Homo sapiens: one gene and its partners. The protein of the gene in region 1 purifies or fractionates together with the protein of each later gene. This does not show direct contact. Each region holds a gene or a part of one and is shown in the gene's direction. Other genes may lie near its edges.

Evidence for each region.
Region 2: the proteins of PGAM1 (region 1) and NACA purify together in Homo sapiens (affinity purification with mass spectrometry, with the first as the bait; one large-scale study listed by BioGRID). This does not show direct contact.
Region 3: the proteins of PGAM1 (region 1) and CKMT1A fractionate together in Homo sapiens (co-fractionation; one large-scale study listed by BioGRID). This does not show direct contact.
Region 4: the proteins of PGAM1 (region 1) and HIBADH fractionate together in Homo sapiens (co-fractionation; one large-scale study listed by BioGRID). This does not show direct contact.
Region 5: the proteins of PGAM1 (region 1) and TES fractionate together in Homo sapiens (co-fractionation; one large-scale study listed by BioGRID). This does not show direct contact.
Region 6: the proteins of PGAM1 (region 1) and PHGDH fractionate together in Homo sapiens (co-fractionation; one large-scale study listed by BioGRID). This does not show direct contact.
Region 7: the proteins of PGAM1 (region 1) and CKMT1B fractionate together in Homo sapiens (co-fractionation; one large-scale study listed by BioGRID). This does not show direct contact.

The regions. Positions count from the first base shown.
Region 1 is NC_000010.11:97,431,568-97,433,944, forward strand, and holds the end of PGAM1 (phosphoglycerate mutase 1), read left to right. Parts: intron 1-787; coding exon 788-957; 3' UTR 958-1,877; downstream 1,878-2,377. UniProt on the Homo sapiens protein: Catalyzes the interconversion of 2-phosphoglycerate and 3-phosphoglyceratea crucial step in glycolysis, by using 2,3-bisphosphoglycerate. Also catalyzes the interconversion of (2R)-2,3-bisphosphoglycerate and (2R)-3-phospho-glyceroyl phosphate.
Region 2 is NC_000012.12:56,715,300-56,718,799, reverse strand, and holds part of NACA (nascent polypeptide-associated complex subunit alpha), read left to right. Parts: coding exon 1-2,929; intron 2,930-3,500. UniProt on the Homo sapiens protein: Cardiac- and muscle-specific transcription factor. May act to regulate the expression of genes involved in the development of myotubes.
Region 3 is NC_000015.10:43,692,565-43,696,658, forward strand, and holds the start of CKMT1A (creatine kinase U-type, mitochondrial isoform 1 precursor), read left to right. Parts: upstream 1-1,294; 5' UTR 1,295-1,486; coding exon 1,487-1,635; intron 1,636-1,962; exon of another isoform or gene 1,963-2,146; coding exon of another isoform or gene 2,147-2,239; coding exon 2,240-2,438; intron 2,439-2,641; coding exon 2,642-2,737; intron 2,738-3,123; coding exon 3,124-3,345; exon of another isoform or gene 3,346-3,346; intron 3,347-3,474; coding exon 3,475-3,560; exon of another isoform or gene 3,561-3,564; intron 3,565-3,675; coding exon 3,676-3,799; intron 3,800-4,094. UniProt on the Homo sapiens protein: Reversibly catalyzes the transfer of phosphate between ATP and various phosphogens (e.g. creatine phosphate).
Region 4 is NC_000007.14:27,530,384-27,533,883, reverse strand, and holds part of HIBADH (3-hydroxyisobutyrate dehydrogenase, mitochondrial isoform 1 precursor), read left to right. Parts: intron 1-2,535; coding exon 2,536-2,692; intron 2,693-3,500.
Region 5 is NC_000007.14:116,238,039-116,241,538, forward strand, and holds part of TES (testin), read left to right. Parts: exon of another isoform or gene 1-294; intron 295-976; exon of another isoform or gene 977-1,211; intron 1,212-3,500. UniProt on the Homo sapiens protein: Scaffold protein that may play a role in cell adhesion, cell spreading and in the reorganization of the actin cytoskeleton. Plays a role in the regulation of cell proliferation. May act as a tumor suppressor. Inhibits tumor cell growth.
Region 6 is NC_000001.11:119,714,934-119,718,433, forward strand, and holds part of PHGDH (D-3-phosphoglycerate dehydrogenase), read left to right. Parts: intron 1-3,500. UniProt on the Homo sapiens protein: Catalyzes the reversible oxidation of 3-phospho-D-glycerate to 3-phosphonooxypyruvate, the first step of the phosphorylated L-serine biosynthesis pathway.
Region 7 is NC_000015.10:43,597,027-43,599,906, forward strand, and holds the end of CKMT1B (creatine kinase U-type, mitochondrial precursor), read left to right. Parts: intron 1-349; exon of another isoform or gene 350-1,166; coding exon 1,167-1,301; intron 1,302-1,800; coding exon 1,801-1,926; intron 1,927-2,130; coding exon 2,131-2,247; 3' UTR 2,248-2,380; downstream 2,381-2,880. Other genes in the region: STRC (stereocilin precursor), read right to left, coding at 2,646-2,734. UniProt on the Homo sapiens protein: Reversibly catalyzes the transfer of phosphate between ATP and various phosphogens (e.g. creatine phosphate).

The DNA.
Region 1 (2,377 bases):
CCAGGAGTTTGAGACAGCCTGGGCAACATAGTAAGACTGCATCTCTACAAAATTTTAAAAGGCCAAGCACAGTGGTTCATGCCTGTACTATCAGCACCTTGGGAGGCCAGGAGTTCAAAACCAGCCTGAGCAACAAAGCAAGACCTTGTCTGTACAAAAGAAAAATGAAAAATTAGCTTGATGTGGTGATGCTCATCTGTAGTCCCAGCTACTCAGGAGGCTGAGGCGGGAGATCGCTTGAGCCCAGCAGTTTGAGGTTATAGTGAGGTATGATTGTGCCACTACATTCTAGCCTGGGTGAGAGAGTAAGACCTTGTCTCTTAAAAAAAAAAAAAAGGAAAACAAATATATATAAAAGAAAAAATTCTCCTTAGTCACAACCAGGCACAACTTTACACATGAATCTCAATTTGCATCTTCATCCCCGAGGGCCTAGAGGCCCACGTGTGCTGATTTTTGGTTGGATGGGCTGTACAGGGTATTTGAGATGTGTAGTCTTGCTTCACTGTGGGCTTCTAGATCCCACTTTGGTAGAGATATCTGGCCATATACCTTGCTGTAGTTTGTTGGTGGTCTATCTTGTATACCTTTTCTTGCTTTTCAGTTTAATGGCTGAGAAATAAGTATGGTGGGGGCCATTCCCTGGGTTCAGAACTACTATAAAGATCAGAAAGGGTGTCTTATTTTAATTTCTGTCAAAGTCCTTTATCACCTGGAGGACAAAGTAAACCTGGAGGGGTGATGTGGATTTATGTCTTGTGTGGCTGATGATGGTGGATGTTTTCAGGTCTCTCTGAAGAGGCTATCATGGAGCTGAACCTGCCGACTGGTATTCCCATTGTCTATGAATTGGACAAGAACTTGAAGCCTATCAAGCCCATGCAGTTTCTGGGGGATGAAGAGACGGTGCGCAAAGCCATGGAAGCTGTGGCTGCCCAGGGCAAGGCCAAGAAGTGAAGGCCGGCGGGGAGGATACTGTCCCCAGGAGCACCCTCCCTGCCCGTCTTGTCCCTCTGCCCCTCCCACCTGCACATGTCACACTGACCACATCTGTAGACATCTTGAGTTGTAGCTGCAGACGGGGACCAGTGGCTCCCATTTTCATTTTAGCCATTTTGTCGCCTGCACCCACTCCCTTCATACAATCTAGTCAGAATAGCAGTTCTAGAGCACAGGTTCTCAGTCTAAGCTATGGAAAAGCTCCCCTTATCCAACAGAGTTTAAAAGTAGTGACTTGGGTTTTTGCGAGTGCTTTGTTTACTAAGGACTTTGGGGAGGAACCATGCTAAGCCATGACCAGTGAGGAGAAGCAACAGAGCCTGTCTGTCCCCATGAGCGGAGTCTGTCCTCTGCTCTTCTGCAGTCAGGTCACTGCCTACTGCCTGGGGGCTCTAGTCATTCCAGTGGAAGACGAATGTAACCTGCGTGGTGATGTGACAACTGTTTCCTCCCTGACCCCAGAGGATCTGGCTCTAGGTTGGGATCAATCCTGAATTTCGTTATGTGTTAATTTACTTTTATTAAAAAAGTATAGTATATATAATACAAAACAATAACCCTTCTGGGGTTTCTTGTGGCGGTTGAAATAGTCCCACATGTGGTCATCAGAAAATAAGCCATTCCTCATACCAATATAGGATCAGCTCCTTGACCTCTGAGGGGCAGGAGTGCTTCCTGGTGTGTGTATTAGAATCCCTTCCTGCCTTGTTTCATGGCAGTGAAATGCCTCTTGGTCCTGTCCAAGTGTATCTTTCACTGATTTCTGAATCATGTTCTAGTTGCTTGACCCTGCCACATGGGTCCAGTGTTCATCTGAGCATAACTGTACTAAATCCTTTTTCCATATCAGTATAATAAAGGAGTGATGTGCAATAGCTTCTTGTGTGATGTGGAAGACCTTATCTGAGGAAACTTTAGCATTTAACTTGAAATGTCTCTCACTGCCCTAGTCCTTGTGTGGCAGTTTGTTTTAGGACATCCAGTCACAACTTTACACGGTTGGTCAAAAAATGACGCATCTCCTTGGGGTTTTCACGTCAGCCTGGTGAGCTGAGGTGGTGGTGGGAGGCCCTCCTGGCCAAGCCCTCCATTCACGTTGCCCCCTGCAGCTCTTGCTTGGTGCTCCCCTGATTGGAAAGTCACATTCTGAACTCCATTATATCCTCTTTAGAGTAAGTAAAGTCTGCTTTTTGTTTTTTCTTTTTGAGACAGCCTCGCTCCGTCGCCCATGCTTGAGTGCAGTGGCATGATCTCAGCTCACTGCAGCCTCCCCCTCCTGTGTTCAAGCAAGCCTCCCACCTCAGCCTCCTGAGTAGCTGGGACCACAGGCATGTGCCACCATGCTTGCTTAATTTCTGTATTTTTAGTAGAGACGGGG
Region 2 (3,500 bases), on another chromosome or scaffold:
CTATCCATGACTTCTTCCTCCCCCAAAAAGGCCCGAGCAACTCCAGCCCCTAAAGGAATCCCAGCTTCCCCATCCCCCAAAGGGGCCCCCACACCCCCAGCTGCAACTCCTCCCTCCCCTAAAGGAGGCCCAGCTACCCCATCCCCGAAATGGGCCCCCACACCCCCAGCTGCAACTCCTCCCTCCCCAAAAGGAGGTCCAGCTACTCCATCCCCCAAAGGGGCCCCCACACCCCCAGCTGCAACTCCTCCCTCCCCCAAAGGAGGTCCAGCTACTCCATCCCCCAAAGGGGCCCCCACACCCCCAGCTGTGACTCCTCCCTCCCCCAAAGGAAGTCCAGCAGCTACCCCATTCCCCAAAGGGGCATCCACACCCCCAGCTGCAACTCCTCCCTCCCCCAAAGGAAGTCCAGCAGCTACCCCACTCCCCAAAGGGGCCCCCACAACCCCAGCTGCAACTCTTCCCTCCCCAAAAGGAGGTCCAGCTACCCCATCCCTCAAGGGGGCCCCCACTCCCCCAGCTGCGACTCCTCCCTCCCCAAAAGGAGGCCCAGCTACCCCATCCCCCAAAGGGGCCCCCATGCCCCCAGCTGCAACTCCTCCCTCCCCAAAAGGAGGTCTAGCTACCCCACCCCACAAAGGGGCACCCACAACCCCAGCTGCAACTCCTCCCTCCCCAAAAGGAGGTCTAGCTACCCCACCCCCAAAAGGGGCCCCCACAACCCCAGCTGCAACTCCTCCTTCCCCAAAAGGAGGTCTAGCTACCCCACCCCCAAAAGGGGCCCCCACAACCCCAGCTGCAACTCCTCCTTCCCCAAAAGGAGGTCTAGCTACCCCATCCCCCAAAGGGGCCCCCACAACCCCAGCTGCAACTCCTCCCTCCCCAAAAGGAGGTCTAGCTACCCCATCCCCCAAAGGGGCCCCCACAACCCCAGCTGCAACTCCTCCCTCCCCAAAAGGAGGTCTGGCTACCCCATCCCCCAAAGGGGCCCCCACAACCCCAGCTGCAACTCCTCCCTCCCCAAAAGGAGGCCCAGCTACCCCACCCCCCAAAGGGGCCCCCACTCCCCCAGCTGCAACTCCTCCCTCCCTAAAAGGAGGTCTAGCTACCCCACCCCACAAAGGGGCCCCCAATCCCGCAGTTGTAACTCCTCCCTCTCCAAAAGGAGGCCCAGCTACCTCACCCCCCAAAGGGGCCCCCACTCCTCCAGCTGCAACTCCTCCCTCCCCAAAAGGAAGCCCAGGTACCCCACCCCCCAAAGGGGCCCCCACTCCCCCAGCTGTAACTCCTCCCTCCCCTAAAGGGACCCCTACTCTCCCAGCTACAACTCCCTCCTCTAAAGGAGGCCCAACTACTCCATCCTCCAAAGAGGGCCCCACTCCCCCAGCTGCAACCCCCTCCCACAAAGGAGGTCCCGCTATGACTCCTCCCTCCCCCAAAAGAGGACCAGCTATCCCATCTCCCAAAGGGGACCCCACTTCCCCAGCAGTGATTCCTCTCTCCCCCAAAAAGGCTCCAGCAACTCCAGTCACCAGAGAAGGCGCAGCCACCCCATCCAAAGGAGATCTCACTCCCCCAGCAGTGACTCCTGTCTCCCTCAAAAAGGCCCCAGCAACTTCAGCCCCCAAAGGAGGCCCAGCTACCCCATCCTCCAAAGGGGATCCCACCCTCCCAGCAGTGACTCCTCCTTCCCCCAAGGAGCCCCCAGCCCCCAAACAAGTTGCCACTTCTTCCTCTCCCAAAAAGGCCCCAGCAACTCCAGCCCCCATGGGGGCCCCCACTCTGCCAGCTGTGATTCCTTCTTCCCCCAAAGAGGTCCCAGCTACCCCATCCTCCAGAAGGGACCCCATTGCCCCAACAGCGACTCTTCTCTCTAAAAAGACCCCAGCAACTCTAGCCCCCAAAGAGGCCCTCATTCCCCCAGCTATGACTGTTCCCTCCCCTAAAAAGACCCCAGCAATTCCAACCCCCAAAGAAGCCCCAGCTACCCCATCCTCCAAAGAGGCCTCCAGTCCCCCAGCAGTGACTCCTTCCACTTACAAAGGGGCCCCATCCCCCAAAGAGCTCCTCATTCCACCAGCTGTGACTTCTCCTTCCCCCAAAGAGGCACCTACTCCTCCAGCTGTGACTCCTCCATCCCCCGAAAAGGGCCCAGCAACTCCAGCCCCCAAAGGGACTCCCACTTCCCCACCTGTGACTCCTTCCTCCCTCAAAGACTCCCCTACTTCCCCAGCTTCTGTCACATGTAAAATGGGGGCCACTGTTCCTCAAGCATCTAAAGGGCTTCCAGCAAAGAAAGGCCCCACAGCTCTGAAAGAAGTACTTGTTGCCCCAGCTCCAGAAAGCACGCCAATCATCACAGCTCCCACTCGGAAAGGTCCACAGACCAAAAAGAGTTCTGCTACTTCACCTCCTATATGCCCAGATCCCTCAGCTAAGAATGGTTCTAAAGGACCCCTTTCCACAGTGGCTCCAGCCCCTCTACTCCCTGTTCAGAAAGACTCTTCAAAGACAGCAAAAGGCAAAGATGCTTCTCATTCCCCAAAGGGCCCCTTGGCTCCTCCTGAGTCTAAGGCGTCCACCCCTCTAACAGCAGCTGCCTTTGAGAAGGTCCTTCCTAAACCTGAATCAGCATCTGTCTCTGCAGCACCCTCCCCACCAGTCTCTCTGCCTCTTGCTCCCTCCCCAGTTCCCACTCTGCCTCCTAAACAGCAATTTCTGCCGTCCTCTCCTGGGCTGGTGTTGGAATCACCCTCTAAACCCCTTGCCCCTGCTGATGAGGATGAGCTGCTGCCTCTGATTCCCCCGGAACCAATCTCTGGGGGAGTGCCTTTCCAGTCGGTCCTCGTCAACATGCCCACCCCTAAATCTGCTGGAATCCCTGTCCCAACCCCCTCTGCCAAGCAACCTGTTACGAAGAACAACAAGGGTATTTGCCTTGGTTTGCCGTGTGCATGGTGTGTCTGTCGTCCACACCCCTCTTGGGCGCTACCCACCAATACTAACCCTGTGATGCGCCGCTTTCTCCAGTGAATCTGCTTGGGTTTGGATGTAGAACATAGAATGATAATTTTAAATGCAAAAGTTCTAGGAATATGAAACCAAATCTTGGTTTTCATTACTTCAGATAGATACATAGTACATTGTGTATCATTTTTGTGTAATGTGGCCCGGACTACCCTGAGCCTGCCATGCCATCTATTTTACCTAATTGATCTGACATTGAAAACCAAGACCTGCCAGACCTTTTCATTTGCTCTAATCCCTACCACATCACTAACTAACCTTGTCCCTGGGCCTGAGATTTGGTAAAATTATTGGAGAATTGAACTATTTGTATTTATTTTTCCATTATTAGACTTAGTAATGACCAGTTGCCCAGGGACTCCCTTTTCATAAAAATGTAGAAATCTGTTTTTCCTAGCCTGAAAATGGTGCAGGTGTATGCTTTTTTTCCTCAGTAGTCTTTACTGATGCTTGGCCTTTGAATTGAAAGAAAT
Region 3 (4,094 bases), on another chromosome or scaffold:
GACCCTCCACGCTGAAGCCCCTCATCTCTATTTCAACTCTAGCATTCATTCTCCTTGCTACCAGGACAAAGGTCAAATCATACCTGGAGCTGGGAAACAAAGCCCTCTCAAATCTGAATATGTGTTTCACGAGGAGAGAGAGAGCAGCAGAGGGGACCACGAGGAAGGCAGAGATTCCCTGACCACCTCATGCCTTTGTACACCACTCGCCTTTACTCTCTGGATTAAACAGCATTAGGGAGACAAGAGAGGAAACACATGTGGTGTCTGGAGACCTGTGCCTGCCTGTTCCAGTCCCACACCCAGTCATCTCACCACACCCTTCACCTCACTTTACCTTCTCCTCCAGCACAGGAACTAGGAACTACGGAGAGAGAAGCCAAGGGAGAGGAGGAGGAGGAAACTAACGATTCCCTGCCCACCCCCACACCCAGCACCACCAACAGGTGGGCAAGCTTGCCGAGAAAACGCAGAGGGCATCCTGTGAGCAGCAAACACATCTGAGCCTGGAAAAGACGCAGAGAAGTAAAAGATCAAAGGTGAGGTAGGGGACGTGGAGGAAAGTGGGAGAGACAAAAGGAAAACAAAAAGTGGGGGATCATGAGAAGCAGAGGCAGGAAATAACAGGGCTTCAGACTTGGGTGCAGAATGGAGGTGGAGGACACAGCACAGATGGCATAAGAATTAATATTTCCTTGGTTCCTCCCAGGGAGTCCTTTCTCAACTTTGTAAGGCGTGCACAGAGGTGGCAAGGAAGCACCTTGCTCCTCTTCCTGGTTCTAAGGAAAAGGTGACCTTGAGCCAGTGGGTGTCTTTCCCAGTGCCTGCCTCTAACCCTGTGCTTTCTCCATATCCTCCTCTGGTATCTGTGTTTATTCCGCGGTTTCCCCGCGGCTGCCCCCGGGAGACCGAAGAGGTGGCTGGGGCAGGCCGAAAGCAGAGGAAAGGTTGGGCAGTGTCACCCTTGCACACCCACAGGGTAGACGGATCGAGTTTCAGCTTAAACCGAGGGGTGTGGGGGAAGGGTGTTGGGTTCAGCTAGTCCACGTGGGTGCTGTCCTCCACTTGGTGCTGAAATCTGGGCGGCCACATCCCCGGGGCGGGAGGGGGCTACATCCCCGGCTTTAGACGCGCGAGTCTCAGGTCCCGCTAATTACCTGGCGGGTGCTGCCCACCCCTGCCCTCGCGCACCTAGCGCGGTGGCAGGCGGGAAGGCGGGGCCTGGGGGAGCCCCACCCCTGGAGACTGCGGCTGGGGCCTCCCTCTCCTCCGCCCGCCCGCCTGCCACTAGCTCATTGCGCCTCTCCTGCAGTCTGATTGGCACCGGCTCCCATTCCGGCTCCAGCCTCCAATCCGACCCCCATTTCGGCTGCAGCCTCGGACCTAGCTCCGGCCCTCGGTCTATCCGGTTGCATCCTCCCTCCCTGTTCCGGATCTTATCTTGCGCCAGCGCCTACTCCAGGATCCCGTAGCCAGACCTCAAGCCATGGCTGGTCCCTTCTCCCGTCTGCTGTCCGCCCGCCCGGGACTCAGGCTCCTGGCTTTGGCCGGAGCGGGGTCTCTAGCCGCTGGGTTTCTGCTCCGACCGGAACCTGTACGAGCTGCCAGTGAACGACGGAGGCTGTATCCCCCGAGGTAACAGTGCCTGAGGCGCGGGAGGAGGCGGGGGCAGGAGGTGATGGGAACGAAGGTGCGGGTAGAAGTGAGAATCCGGGCAACAGAGAAGGGCTATAATCACGAAGGCCCTGGAGCTGGAGGGCTGTGCAGTCTGCAGACCTCAGTGGGGTGGGGGTGGGGGCCAAAACCATAAAGCAAGAACATTCCTGGGGACCTGCCAAGACCAGCTCTGGCCCTACGAGTTCTAGCTGCACTGGCTGCCCAAATCCCTAATTGTAAAGCCAGGAACTATCCTTTTCGCTCCCCTCCATCTCCTTCCCTCATTTCCTCAATTCCTCTCCTTAGGCTTTTCCCCTCCTCCATCCGTAGTGTTGTGTCATGGGAGGAAAGAACTGAGCAGATCTGAAGAAACTGAGCTGGCCAGCCAGAGGCAACTAGAACTATTAGGAAAGCATAGACTCTGAAAGTCCCTAAAGAGATTACCAAGGTTTACCCTCTTTCTAATTCCCCCTCCTCCCGCGGAGCAAAGCCAGACATGGCCAACTGGACAGCTCCCAGGTAACTGCACTAGGTCTAGGCGTCTGTGCCCTCCCTCCATGGTTACTGGGTACCCCCTCCCCAGCGCTGAGTACCCAGACCTCCGAAAGCACAACAACTGCATGGCCAGTCACCTGACCCCAGCAGTCTATGCACGGCTCTGCGACAAGACCACACCCACTGGTTGGACGCTAGATCAGTGTATCCAGACTGGCGTGGACAACCCTGGCCACCCCTTCATCAAGACTGTGGGCATGGTGGCTGGAGATGAGGAGACCTATGAGGTAGGGGGTCCCCAGAGTCTCCCTGATGATCCAATTCATCTTCCCAGTAATCCCAGCTCCTTTCCCCTAAAGACCTCTCACTTTCCCCCAAGACTCTGAGCCCCCCATACTTAAGTTTTCTGAACCAGTGAAATCAATGCACAATTGAAGTCTGGGGAGGGATTCCCTCTCCTTAACCATCTCTCCCTCTTAACTCCCCTTAGGTATTTGCTGACCTGTTTGACCCTGTGATCCAAGAGCGACACAATGGATATGACCCCCGGACAATGAAGCACACCACGGATCTAGATGCCAGTAAAGTGAGTTCAAATATCCCACTTCTGATTTGCATTGCCTGTGTACAACACTCTGTATCTCCAACCCCTTCACCTTATTTCCTGACTCATGGTCATTATACAGCTGAGCTTTTAATCTTAATGTAAGGAAAGAATCATATCTTAAGGGGCAGCATATATGGAGATGGAAGGATAGATAAGAATGACCATGACCCAAGGTGGGTGGTTTGGGGAAAGGTCTGCAATGCCCCCTTCAATTCCAGTGCTTTCCCAAAGGGCCTCTTCTTCCAATGCATGCAGGAAGAATGCACAAAGAGTCCTCTAATGCCTAAGGAAGGTCTCTCCTTTCCCAGGGGCCCTCAGTTCCCACCGTGTTTCTGTGACTTACATTCATTTCCCTTATCTCCCAGATCCGTTCTGGCTACTTTGATGAGAGGTATGTATTGTCCTCTAGAGTCAGAACTGGCCGAAGCATCCGAGGACTCAGTCTGCCTCCAGCTTGCACTCGAGCAGAGCGACGAGAGGTGGAACGTGTTGTGGTGGATGCACTGAGTGGCCTGAAGGGTGACCTGGCTGGACGTTACTATAGGCTCAGTGAGATGACAGAGGCTGAACAGCAGCAGCTTATTGATGTGAGGGCCTTAAGAGGGTGCTGGTTGGTGGGAGCAGATGGGGAAGGCTGGGCCAGATGAGACATGGGCTCTGAAAGGCCCAGGGGCCACCATGAAGATTCTTAACCCAAGTCCCGTTACTCTTCCCAGGACCACTTTCTGTTTGATAAGCCTGTGTCCCCGTTGCTGACTGCAGCAGGAATGGCTCGAGACTGGCCAGATGCTCGTGGAATTTGGTATGAAGCTGCTCATTACCTCTTTTGTCTTCATGCCCTCATAAATGCTTTTTTTCCCTCTATCTCTCCCAATTCTTGCCTTGCCTCTTGATCACTGTCCCTCTCCGGCCCTCAGGCACAACAATGAGAAGAGCTTCCTGATCTGGGTGAATGAGGAGGATCATACACGGGTGATCTCCATGGAGAAGGGTGGTAACATGAAGAGAGTGTTTGAAAGATTCTGCCGAGGCCTCAAAGAGGTTAGAGAAGATTGTGTAGGGGAGCTAGGTGGGAGGACATAAGGAAAACCAAAGAGTAGCATAAATAGATTATGTAATTTATCAACCAACCCAAGACATGTCTGATGGTAAAAAGGACTACCTAGGACTCACTCTAGGACTAAAGGTATAAACCAGCTGGGACCATACTGGGAAAACCAGGACATGTGGTCACACTAAGATTAGGAAAAGAGTGTCAGGAACCTTAGAAAGTGAAGAAGGCAGGTAATGCAAAGAAGGAATAACTGAGATGGCACGTCAGTGCCTGGGATGTGTG
Region 4 (3,500 bases), on another chromosome or scaffold:
GCTCTTATGCAGAAAGTATCATATGTTCCCAGCCAATTTACAGGGAAACAGCAATAACATTTTATCATGGTTGAGAGCCCAGTAGCTGCTTCCTATTAAACTTGCCCTTTCAGATACCTGTCTTGGATTAATTTGTTGATTTCGAATGGAAACTCAGTCTTCTCCAGTGAAGCATGACGTTCTAGGATAGACTCTGAATGACAATTACTGTGTATTCTAGCTGGTTTCAGACCATTACAAGCCTTGGGCACAGTGGAAAACAGAGGACTTCAGTAACTGATTTTAATATCATGTCTAATTTTAACTGTCAGTTATGTATGTGCCAGAGAACGAATCCTCAGAAAGATGAAATGCAAAACACTTCTAACTTGCTCTTTTTAATGATACACTTTGCTGCGGGTGGGGGCAGGGGGAGGGAAGTGGAGAGGGAATAACTATCTCCTGAAGGGAATCAGCACGGTGGGGAAGCATCAGATTTGAAAAGTGAGAATGAAACAACTGCCACCTGATTTTTTGTGTGTGCCCCTCAGGATGCTTCTAAATAGTAATGTGTTCACCAGAAAGGGTTTCCATCAATCAATACCAGTACTTTTCCTTGAACATTCAAGAAAAATGTAGGGTTTTACAAAGTTAGGATAATTAGCTTTGCTCACCATTTTGTTGAATATTATAGAAAAGAGTGAATTTCCTTAGCTGTAAAAGCTCTTGTGAGCTACTACTGAGTGTAACCTGGTAGATTAGAAAGAAGGAAGGAATTCTGCTGCTTTAAATATGATGAACCATCTTAAAAGATCTAAGTTAGGAAGCCCTGAAATTATATTTCAAATGGAGAGAGAAAGTGACGTTTTGGAGTCTTTAAAAGTATTTTCTCCTTATGGAGCATATTAGATGTATGCATTCTTGAACATTTGGTACTTTGCAGTTATAGCAAATTAACTAATTGTTAATTGTGATTTTACTTTTCACAATTATTCCCTAAGCACACTGGCTTTATCTTTTCCTAAGTGATATACTACAGTAGCATACTGATAGCCTAATCTTATTTAAAAGGAGAAAGCAAGCATCAGTAGCATACTATGCATGCAGTGAACTTGGATCTTTATAAAAGAATGAATGAAACTGTTGGGTTTCTCTCTGGGAATCTACAGTTGAACAGAATGAATGATAGCCAATTTAGACTGAATTTCTGTATCTGTTACAATCCTTAGTAAAATCCATCACTATAACATGGGCCACCATATGAATTCAGATACATGATATGCCACATAGCAGTCTGGGAACCACAGCTACCCCTTGAAAGCCTGATTACATAACAGTTGTATTATGTGGTAATTCCATACATATTTTTGGCTGTTAGCCTCAGCCCCCTGCTCTAGCATCTGAAAAAATGTTTTATTGGCCATGATATTCAGATTTTGAAATAAACAGGCATGTGTTTTAGACACACAGAGTAAACAATCTGAGCGTGCCAAGATGCACAGTTTGTTTAACATTTACATAAGTGTCTCTTTTCAGTGTTTTTTTTATTTTCTGGAAGAGGTTGGTTTTAAGAAAAAGTGGAAAGCTTTTATGACAATTGTTTCATAATGGCTCTGTGTATGAAAGAAACCAAATAAATTGCTAGGAATAAAGTTTTATTTGAAACTTGATTCAGTGATACCTAGCAAAATTGTGCTTCCCAAACTGCATTATATCTTTAGAATCCAAGTAATGGAGCATTTTGATTCTATTATTTTTTCTAGGGTCCACATTGAACAGCCGTTTATGCCATCAGCCCAGTGATAGAACAAATGATGTTTCTGCTTGGGCAAGCTTTGTTTTATCAGGATCAGTAACCTTATCAGCAGTTGACCCAGAACTATAATGCATGTCTCTGAATAGATAGCATATGTCACAACTCTGTGCAGACTTGCTTCATAAGCAAGATTGTCTAATAAAGATTTAATAAATAAGGAAAAGTTTGCAGCAAAAAGTCTTCTTTTATAATAACTTTTCTTAAGCTCGTTTACAGCTCCTGGCTCATCTCTTGCATTTATTCTCATAAAAACTAAAGGAATAAACATACATATAAATGCATTCACACAGACTCCCATGATGCATCGTTTATCTGTCAGTATTTCTTTCTGAAATATATCATTTGTGGGTAAAGAATGTAGAATTTAAATTATCATATTGTTTTAAGGTTCTTATGTGACATATAAATGTAGTAATGTCCAAAGACTAGAAAACCCATGAGTGTGATAAACCAACAATATTTTTATGCAATTGTATATTATTTTTTCTTAATAATAGGATAACATAGAAGGTTTTCTCCAAATGCAAAATGGTCCTGGCTCAAAAATATTCTTATTTAACCAGTAGTGTTTAGTACTCTATAATTCAAAATTGGATTCTTCACTCTCGTATCAACCTGCTTAGATTTTAGAAGACATATAATAAATGGAGAGAGAAGATGGAGCATCCCCATACATAAATAAGTCACGCACGACGTGTACATTTTGACACTTAACACTTCTTTTCTTTGACCTTTGACAGGTTAGGGCTTGACCCAAAACTACTGGCTAAAATCCTAAATATGAGCTCAGGACGGTGTTGGTCAAGTGACACTTATAATCCTGTACCTGGAGTGATGGATGGCGTTCCCTCGGCTAATAACTATCAGGGTGGATTTGGAACAACACTCATGGCTAAGGTATGGTAAATGTAGACACCCAAGAGAGAAGGAAAAACGTTTCACGGTCCAATAACACCTTCCTTCTCTTTCTCTTAATAAAGCATATGTCTCAGGTAAGAGGCAAAATTACTAGAATATTCACTCTCACTGAAAATGAGTAAAAACCTAACTTAGATGAAAATCCTTATCTTGTTCATTTTTATTCCTGGCCTTTTGGTTGAGAAGAATGGGCCAGACCATGTGTGTGTGTGTATGTGTGTGCGTGTGTGTGTGTGTGCGCACTTGGGTTTATTTATATGAGCCGGTAAAATTTCGTTCACCATTAATTTATGTTAATTTACCAACTTCTTAAATGAGAACAGTGAGAATTTTCTCATTGTTAATAATACACTGGCAGTGCATATATGCATCACGAAGAGAGGATTTTCCCATTGATAATAGATTTCCAAATACATCTTCCTGCTTTAAGATTTTAATATATGGATTTATATATAAAAACTAGTTAAGTCATTGGAAAAGCAAACTGTCATCCTTCTCTTATTTGAGATCTCAACTTTAGAAAGTCTATGTTCTCAACTACAGAAAATAATTTTTAGACCAGCTAACTTTCAGATTTCTGCAGTGCTTATTTTCTCCCAGTTGAGGGTTGGTTTTTGTTTGTTTGTTTGTTTGTTTGTTTTTCCTGATTAAAAAGTAAGAATACGGCCAGGCGCGATAGCTCATGCCTTTAATCCCAGCATTTTGGGAGGCCGAGGAGGGCAGATCACCTGAGGTCAGGAGTTCGAGACCAGCCTGGCTAACATGGTGAAACCCAGTTTCTACTAAA
Region 5 (3,500 bases), on another chromosome or scaffold:
ACCCCCTTCCCCTGCTTCCACATACCCCCAAGTTGTTAGGAATCATTTTCCTTTTTATCACCTTGTATACTTACAGAAAGCCAGGAGATAAATACCCAGACCTCATTCTTCATCACTCTGATTTTCTGCTGGCACCTCCCATTGTCCCATTGCCAGTGACAAGGGATCCCACAGGTGTAGTCCTTAAGGATCAGCCTTCTGGGAAATAGCACAGAGTACTGAGGCATGGAGAATGAATCTGGAGAGGTGAATGGAAGATGCCGGATCAAGGTGTATCACCATAGTTGCAGGAGACTAAAAATTAATTATTAGGAATTTAGAGTGAACTTGTAACTTAACTAGTCTAACCTCATTTTACAGATCAAAGACCTAAACCAAAGGAAGTTAAAATGACTTGTTTGAGCCCATGAGTTATTAATAATATAATTTGTGAATGATTTCTATGTGTCACACACCAGTAAGCACTTGTAATAATTTTCTACTGCTGCATAACAAATTACTACAAACTTTGCAAGTTAAAGCAACAACTGTTAACTCAACATCCATCATTATTATTATTATTATTATTATTATTATTTTTGAGATGGGGTTTCACCCTTGTTGCCCAGGCTGGAGTGCAATGGTGCGATCTCGGCTCACTGCAACCTCTGCCTCCTAGGTTCAAGTGATTCTCCTGCCTGCCTCCCGAGTATCTGGGATTACAGGCGCCCGCCACCACGCCCAGCTAATTTTTTCTATTTTTAGTAGAGACGGGGTTTCACCATGTTGGCCAGGCTGGTCTCAAACCCCTGACCTCAGCAGATCCACCAGCCTCAGCCTCCCAAAGTGCTGGGATTACAGACATGAGCCACTGTGCCCAGCCAACATCCATTATTTTTCAGGTTAGAAGTCTGGGATAGGGGAGCTGGCTTAGCTGTCTATGCTTAGCACCTCAAAAAGCTGAAATGAAGGTGTTGGCCAGGCTAAAAGTACTCACCTTTAAGTGCGAGGGAAGAATCTGCTTTCAAGCTCATTCTTGTTGGTAGAATCTATTTTCTGTGGTTGGAGAACCAAGGTCCCTGTTTCCTTGTTGGCTGTCAGCTGGGGGCTGGCTACTCTCAGCTTCTAGAAACCAGTCACATTCATTGAGGTACAATGCCTTCCATCTTCAAAGCCAGCACCACTGCTTAGAATCCTTCCTGCACCTCACATGCCTCCAACTTCCTCTTCTGCTGCGAGCCAGAGAAAATTCATTGCTTTTTAAGGGCTCACATGATTAGAGTAGGCACGCCTGGAAAATCTCCCATTTGCCATATAAAAGTAACATAATCATGAAAGTAACACCAGGGGACAGAAGTCATAGGGGCCATGTTAACATTCTGCTTACCACAGCACTGTATGTACCTGATTGTACCTAATCCTCCTAATATTTATTTTATTATGTATGAGAAATCAAAGACGTAGGAAAGTTAAATAACTTACTAAAGTTATGGCTTATAGATGGCAGAGCTGAATTTGAACTCAGAGTTTTCCAAAACCTTTCTCCATGGCAGAGTAGATATTAGAATGCACATTTTTCACTCTCAGGGCCAGTGAACTTTGAACTGCACCAGGCTGTCGCCTCTGAAGTGTGATTGTTGTGACACAGACATCCTTGTGGACAAAGGTGTACTTTTACTGTGAGCTCTCTCCTTTTTCAGTGTGCCCATGATTACAACAGTAGAGGAAAATAAAAGGTTCAGGAAGCCTAATAATGACCCAATAAGAAACACTATCTGCTGGGAATGCTTTCAAGTAATATATAGAGATAAAGAGTGTTTATTGAAATGTATGACACAGACCCAAGGTTTCCAGGAGTTTATAGCCAGTTATTTCACATTGAAGGTATAATTAATATAATTGCAACCATGTCATTTATCATATTAAGTAACAGAATTATTGTTTTGCTTTACCTTTGTTAAAGTCTCCTAATAAAACAGTTGCATTTTATTAAAAATGCGTTACTTGATTATAACATACATCTGTTCAGAATTTCTGATTGATTTAGAGCTGGGTGAAAACTAAAAATTCCCTACCATAAATGGATTAATACTTGTGTTGAATTCTGTCACAGAGGCCCACACTTAAATCCATATATGTATATCCCTGTTACAAAAGGGCAGCTTCCAACCCTTTTAAATTATGGTTTGTAGCAATGCCATGGCCGTGCTTTTAAATCACTGTGAATGCTGGCAGCATGTCAAAGCACTCTAGTTTCTACTGCTTGCCTTGGAAAAATAGTAAGTTTTACAAATAGTGATACAAAAAAATTTCTTTTGGGAGAATAAAGGATAGTTTCTTGATTTTTTTCAGCTTGAAAATGTAAATATGTTTATTTGTCTGAGGCAATACTTTTGGTAGTTTTGTTCTTGCATTCGCTCTCCCAGGCTCGCTCTTTCTCTCTCTCTCACTCCTTCCCTCCCCCTCGCTCCTCCCTTTCCTCCATACATATTAATGTTTGCATATATATGTGTTAATGGTGCTAAATTCTTTTTGTACAAACAACTTTTTATACAAATAACCCTCCTCCATCCCCACACCTTAGAGCTTCCCAATCTGCCAATCCACCTTTGCACCTTTTTAAAAGAATCATGAAAAAGACTTTTAAACTAACTTAATTCTGAATCCCCTTCCCTTTTTTTCCCCATAGAACTTTTCTTAACATCCTATGGAGAATCTGGAGAGAGAACTGCTCAATAGGACAGTTTAGAAAATTTAGAGGTTTGAAAACTGTGTTAAATATGGGAACTGATTTATATACTCTCTTAAAACTATCAACTCAGTATAGCACAAATAAATAAACAAGCTGTTTAAATCTATATATATCATCAGAAGTTACTTATGGATCATCTGATGAAAGATAATCCACACACCGTGCAAACAGCCCCTTGCACATGGGTATTGTGCTCACCCATACTCTGTTTGTGTTTTTGTTTTAGGTTTGTATAAAACCACGTTTTTAAAGTTCTTCATTTTCTTAAGGGTAGAATCTGGGTTAGTTTAGGCTGAAATTGAATATGTGATAAACGTCCCACTTATTCTCAGGCCGCTCTTGGATAACAAGATCACAGTGGCATCCTTTTCTTCTCCAATTCCACAACAAGGTTTTTCTTTTAATAAATGTATTGGATTGCTTCCAAATGACTTTGAAAGTTTTTATAGGTATTTCTAAAAGTAAAATGTTTTAGTTTAAATGTGGGAGACTCAAATATAAAACACTGTAGATTAGAACTCTAAGAAAAATATTTTTAAAACCTAAAACTAGGTAAGTGGTAATAGCACAGATTTCCACAATAGATAGCTCCTGGCACCTGGTGCTGATTTTATAGTATGTTTTCTTGCAGAGTAGTTTGTAGCTGGCTCTTCTCCTTGTAGAAATGGAGCTCCAGTGTAAGGCTTCTGGAAGGGATGTGGTCATCCCAACTGTTTTAATGATGACAGCTCTAGTTGAAGAGCCATCCCACCCTTCTTGGGTCACATTC
Region 6 (3,500 bases), on another chromosome or scaffold:
GATGTGTTTCTTACAATGAACCTCAGTCAAAAAAGTTTGGAAAACGTTGGCTTAAAATAATAAAGCATCTTGTTTGGAACTCACATCTTAAATATACCTAATATGCCGGAAAATATTTAAATAATATTACCATGTATCAGTGGCTTTTAAACTTTGACTGTGACCCACAATAAGAAATTTGTTTTATGTCATAACTTAAACACTCATACATATGTGTACACACAGACACACACAAATTTTATGAAATAATACTTACTCTTTTTACATATGATGCATTCTGGTATTTTCTTCTGTTTCATTAAGTAGCATTGCTGGTCAGGACCACTAAACTAAACACTGGTAATGGTATTTAATTTACTGAAGCACATCCATACCTTCATATCAGTACTTGAAGAAAGATTAAGAAGGGAATAAATCTTTCCATGCCAAATTTCTTTTCAAATTTCTTTAAAATAGGAAGTTCCCAGCCTTTACACAAGGATTTAGTTTGCAAAAGTTAAATAACCATCAAATTAATCAGGATCACACATCTTGTGCAAAACAGGGTAGACCTGCCTTCCCTATAGCTGGGGAACATGACCTGGATAGTTTCATTGTCTTGCCCTATGATTTAAGTCAGAGGCATGGCAATGCTAGAATTACCTCCTAGGCCAAGCTTGTCCCCTTGGGAAAGGAAGCATGTGTGAACCTGAGGAATGGCAATGGATTCCCATTGCTGAGTTAGCAGTTTGTCTCGAACAGCCATAAATCAAGCAGTTTTCTAGCTGAACAGCAGCTAAGGACAGGGGAGCGGGAGGACTTGTAGGAAGTGTGGGAAGTGCCTGTTCCCGCCACAGTGCAGACACAGAAGCCACACGCAGAGGGCAGTGAACATCAGAATTTGGTGCTGTGTAGAGAGAGACTTGCTTCCTCACCCAAGGAATGACAAAGAGAGGGGAGGATCTCTGGACACTGGAGAAGTTTTAATCGCAAACTGCAGAGGATGTGAGCAGATGGGTGCATTTGGTTAGGGCTGTGGTTTCCATAAGTAGAGGACAGGAGCAGACAGCTTGGGGCAAAGTCTTTGAAGGGGGTGCGTTGTGGCGTGAGGAGGGAAGGGGCTTGGGTGCAGGGGCTTTGAGGGTCCAGCAGGAGGTAGGTTGGATTCAGGCTGTCTGTGAATATGTGCTGATTGAATGAGTGGATAGAGTGGGTAGTTGAGGTTGTAAGAGGCCTTGGAAGCTCATTAACTCTGACTGATGTGGGATGTCTGGTTCTAATGTGGGACCAAGGTCTCCTGAGTGACAGTTTCTGCCCTTGGGAGAGGTGAGACCTGATGCTCATCTGTAGGAGTCTGACTGGGGACTCTTAGTTTCCCTGGCACCAAAGAAGGCTGGTTTGAGGGAAAAGTGAAGAGACTACAGCATAAATCTTTACAAGGGAGATCCATCCAGAGAGTCCATGCTCATGAAAGAAACAATAGTGCTGTTTCTGTGCTTGTTCAGGGGCTACAAGAATGGGTGGACTTTGGGGAGTCTGCATGCTCTCCAGCTAGTGTTGCCTGTGGGGAGCAGGTTTGCAAGGTTTGGGGAGCATTTTGGCAGCTTTGGAGAGAACATTGAAGAAGGATGGACCCTTAAGGCCCAAGGGAGTGATTGGTAGAGCCTCTGGAGCAGGACTGGGCCTGAGATGTGGGCTCTGGAACTTGATGCTAGAGAGACAAGGTGATAAGATGATGACTCTGGGTGGTCCCTTCTCCTCTTGCTCCATGCCTGCTTCTTGTCAGTTGAACTTTGACTTTTGGTCCTGAGCTGACCACTTGAAAGGAGGTTGTGTTTCCTCAGTGTGTTACCAATTTTCTAAGGTGTCAGTGCTGGCTGCAAAGAAATGACCACTAAAAATGTGCTTACCCACCCACTGCCCAGTTGCCCTCCAAAAAGGTCATGCAGTGTACACTCCTGTTTCCCTCCATGCTCACCAATGCTGAATATTATTCATTTTCTTTCTGCCAAAATGATGCCCAAAAATATCATATTTAAAAATCTATATTTCCTTGATATCTAGCGTTGAAGAGTCTATAAACTAGTGAAACTAGTGACCACTTTGTAGTTCTTCTGTGCATTGCCTATTTATATATTTATCTATTTTTTATTGTGCTCTTTATCCTTTAAAAAAGTGGATTTGTGGTGCATGCCTATAATCCCAGCTACTCGGGAGGCTGAAGCAGGAGAATCGCTTGAACCCGGGAGGCGGAGGTTGCAGTGAGCCAAGATCGCGCCATTGCACTCCAGCCTGGGCAATAAGAGTGAAACTCTGTCTCAAAAAAAAAAAAAAAAAAAAAAAAAAAAAGTTGATTTGTAGGAATTCTATCACTTTTGGTGATGAATCCTTGTTCTGTTACATATGGTGAAAGGAGTTTTCTCCACATATCAGGACCACTACTTGCTTTTGTTTATGGGATCTTTTTCCATGCAGAAGTTTAAAATTTGAATGTAACTGGATTTGTCAATATTTTCTTCCAGAGTTTCTAAGATTTGTGCCTTGCTTATGAAAGGTTTTCCCAATCCGAGTCATAAAAATATCCCCTGACATTTTCTTTTAATGCTTATATTTTTAAAAATTCTTTAATTCATCTGGATTTTTAAAAATCTGAAGTGAGGTAGCAATCTATTATTTTTCTTCTTGAATTTTCATAACATTATTTCTTGTTTAGTTCTTCCTTTCCGCATCAATTTGAGTTCTGCTTTTTATTTTCTAAATTCTCACATATTCTGTTTGTCTAGTGTCTATTTAGTTCTGTTGACTGATTTGTCAATTTCTGAACGTTTTTCCTGCTTTTTTTCAACTTCTTTTAATAAGATTTTTGAAAATCCTTGAGCACTCTTAGAAGTAGACCTTATGCCTCCTTATCACAGTCAAAGGAAGGGATTTCTGATGAGCAATTTTCAGGCATGTGAAGTGTTAAAGTTATTTGGGAAAGAGGGTGAAGGTGTGAGGATGGGGGACTGATGAGGGTGGTTTCTACCGGCCTCTCATCACTGAATTCATTTATTCAATGGAAGTGTATAAAACACTTCATTGTGAAGTATCAACTGTGAGCTTGCCTACAGGCCACAGGCAACTTGCTCTTCTCGACAGAGGCATTTGTGCCTATTTCTATTATCCCCCAGTAGGCAGGCTGGCTGGGAGGAGCAGGTCACCAGAAGATCCAGGGACCTTTGTTAGGGAGCTTCTGCCATCTTGGAGAAGCCACAGGATTTCTGGCAATGTCTCTCCTGGTTTAGGTGTCTAAATGCTGTATTTGGAAGGTAGTTGGAACTCAACAGATTTGGACTTGATTCCAGCTTCTGCCATATCCTAGCTATGTGACTTCAGCAAGTTCTCTAAATTCTTTAAGTGTCAGTTTGCTTGTCTGTACTATAGGGATAATTGTAATATCTGTCTTAGGATTGTTGTGAAGCACAGTGCTGGATGTAAAGTACTTGCTCAAAAAATGGTAGCTATTGTTACTAGTAAATCTC
Region 7 (2,880 bases), on another chromosome or scaffold:
ACTGGGGAAGGTGGAGGATAGAATGGTTCAAGTTCTAGAATATGTGGCTCTAGATGAGAGGTTGAACTGAATCATCAATCCTACATGGATTGGGTCTCCGTATTCAAGTCTACATTAGAAATCCCCATAAACTCAATTCAATTCTTACTGTATGTTCTCAAACATACAGTTCTATTTTAGGTTTGCAAAGAAAAAGAGCTCCTCTTTTAGATTCTGAGAAGTTTCTACTATTTTTGGCAAGTAATAGATAACATATTCTGACTATGAGTGGGTAGGGAAGTACCTTTAAATTATATGCCTCAGTTTCCTCATCTGTAAAATTGGGATAATGAGATTTTCTACATTTTAGGTTGTTGTGGGGATTAAGTGAAATACAGGTAAAGTACTTGGTCCACAGTAAGTGCTTAATAAGTGTTAAAGTGTTAGCTGCAATATTATTCTGGATGGAAGAGTTTCCCCCCATGTTCAGCATGTAAGATATCCCCTATGGCATGGTTCCTTCTGAACTATAAAGAGGATCCCTTTACTCATGTTGGGTTGTGGTCTTTGTGACCATCATTCTGCTAGATCCCTTGTCTCTTGAACTCTAATAGTCATCTTCATGACTACATGGTTAAGTGAAGCCAAACGCCTTCCCCCCGCCCCCTATTCCTATGAATCTGGCTTTTCTGCTCTGTTTTCATCTTTCTCTGCATTCACACAGGTGCTCCGTTCACAGCTAACAGAATGTTATCTTACCTCTTCCTGGCAAAGCTTACACCTTCATCTTCTGTCTGAAGGGACCCTTCTAAGCTCTAGGCTCATTAGCAAAGCAAAGATAATCGATGCATGCAGACCTCATTGAATAATCAGTCATCTCTCAGTTCAGTTTACCACCTCTGTTCATTTCCCTAGATCATCCTTAATACACCACTCCTTCGAGTTTTCTTCTTCCACATAAGATATTTTTTCACAATCTCATTATTATGCACATCATAATTTTGCATCATGCATGCATGAAAACAATAACAAACCTTTTTCATTTAAAAAAAGACCAATGTCATTCATTCACAGCCAAGTTTCTGTTCTAGACATATTTCTAGTGTTCTTGTGGGTCTAGCTAAGGGAGGGTCCAGGGTTAATGAAATATCCCTGATTTTTCGTTAACAAAACCTTTGTGGACTCAGGTGGAGAGACTTATCCAAGAACGTGGCTGGGAGTTCATGTGGAATGAGCGTTTGGGATACATCTTGACCTGTCCATCTAACCTGGGCACTGGACTTCGGGCAGGAGTGCACATCAAACTGCCCCTGCTAAGCAAAGTAAAGGAGTTGTGGGGTTACAGAGGGGTGTGAGTAAGGAAGGGTGGGTTGTGGATGGGGAGGGAGTGGACCCTTTGGAAAGGAGCCAAACATGTTGTGGCTAAAGGGTCAGAGGACAGGCCAGGCACAGTGGCTCATGCCTCTAATCCCAACACTTGGGAGGCCAAGGCAGGCAGATTACTTGAGCCCAGGAGTTCAAGACCAGCCTGGGCAACCTGGTGAAACCCCATCTCTACTACAAATACAAAAGTTAGCTGGGTGTAGTGGAGGCTGAGGTGAGAGGATCACTTAAGCCTGGGAAGTCGAGGCTTCAGTGAGCTGTGATCACTCCAGCCTGGGTGACAGAGAGAGACCCTGTCTAAAAAAAATTAAAAAAGAAAAAAGAAAAAAGGAAAAAAAAAGTTCAGGAGACAGAGCTCTGAGCAGGTTCAGGGCTCTTTCAGGTAGGACTAGTCTCTGCCTCTATTGACCCTGCTCCCAATCCCTATCTCCTCTCTAGGATAGCCGCTTCCCAAAGATCCTGGAGAACCTAAGACTCCAAAAACGTGGTACTGGAGGAGTGGACACTGCTGCTACAGGCGGTGTCTTTGATATTTCTAATTTGGACCGACTAGGCAAATCAGAGGTGAGATCCTAAGGGATTAGGACAAGGAGAGGTATAGGTCTGCGAGGGCCGAAATATGGCAGTGAGTGAGCCTCCGGGATGTAAGATAATCTGAAATGAAATTCAGGTTGAGTGGGGAGGCAATTGGAAATGAGCAGGCAAGTCAGTCAGTGATAAAGAAAAACTCAGACTGTAGGAAGCAGATCAAAGATTAGTGTCCCTTAGGTGGAGCTGGTGCAACTGGTCATCGATGGAGTAAACTATTTGATTGATTGTGAACGGCGTCTGGAGAGAGGCCAGGATATCCGCATCCCCACACCTGTCATCCACACCAAGCATTAACTCCCCATCGCCAGCTGATGACTCAAGATTCCCAGGAGTTCTGCTCATTCTAATGATGGCCCATTCTACTTGCTCTGGACCTGCCCCCGCATCCCCTGCCTCCATCCTAGTAAAGACTCCTTGCTATGCTGCAGCTGTCTGTGTTACTTCTAATGGTGGGGTGAGGAGGGAGCAGCCTTCAGGAAATGAAAAGAGGCAGTGGGATTATTTATGATGGAAAGAGACTCCAGATATGGCAACCCAGGAACACTGATTCTCAGGTGGGTGGAAAGCATTAACATTTTACCCATATTCCTCATCAGCTTCTGAAAATAATCAGGATGCACTTCTGTTTGCACTTTATTCATTATGACTTAAGATTTCTCTCCCCACAATCTCCTTCTACTGTAGAGACAGGCTCATAGCAGGTGGCCAAGGAAGCTGATAGTCAATACCAGGGACCAGGAAGGTCGTGACCAGTCCTGGAGGCCCCAGGCTGTACTTCGACCTATAATAGACAGGGAATGGGAGTAATATCACAACTCAGCTCTCCAGGAGCATTGATACTTGGAAATTAGCGCTCTGCCTGTAGACTCCTTCACTCCAGGGATCTCCCTGGGTGCACTCTAAGAGCCAGACAGCACCAAATTAGGG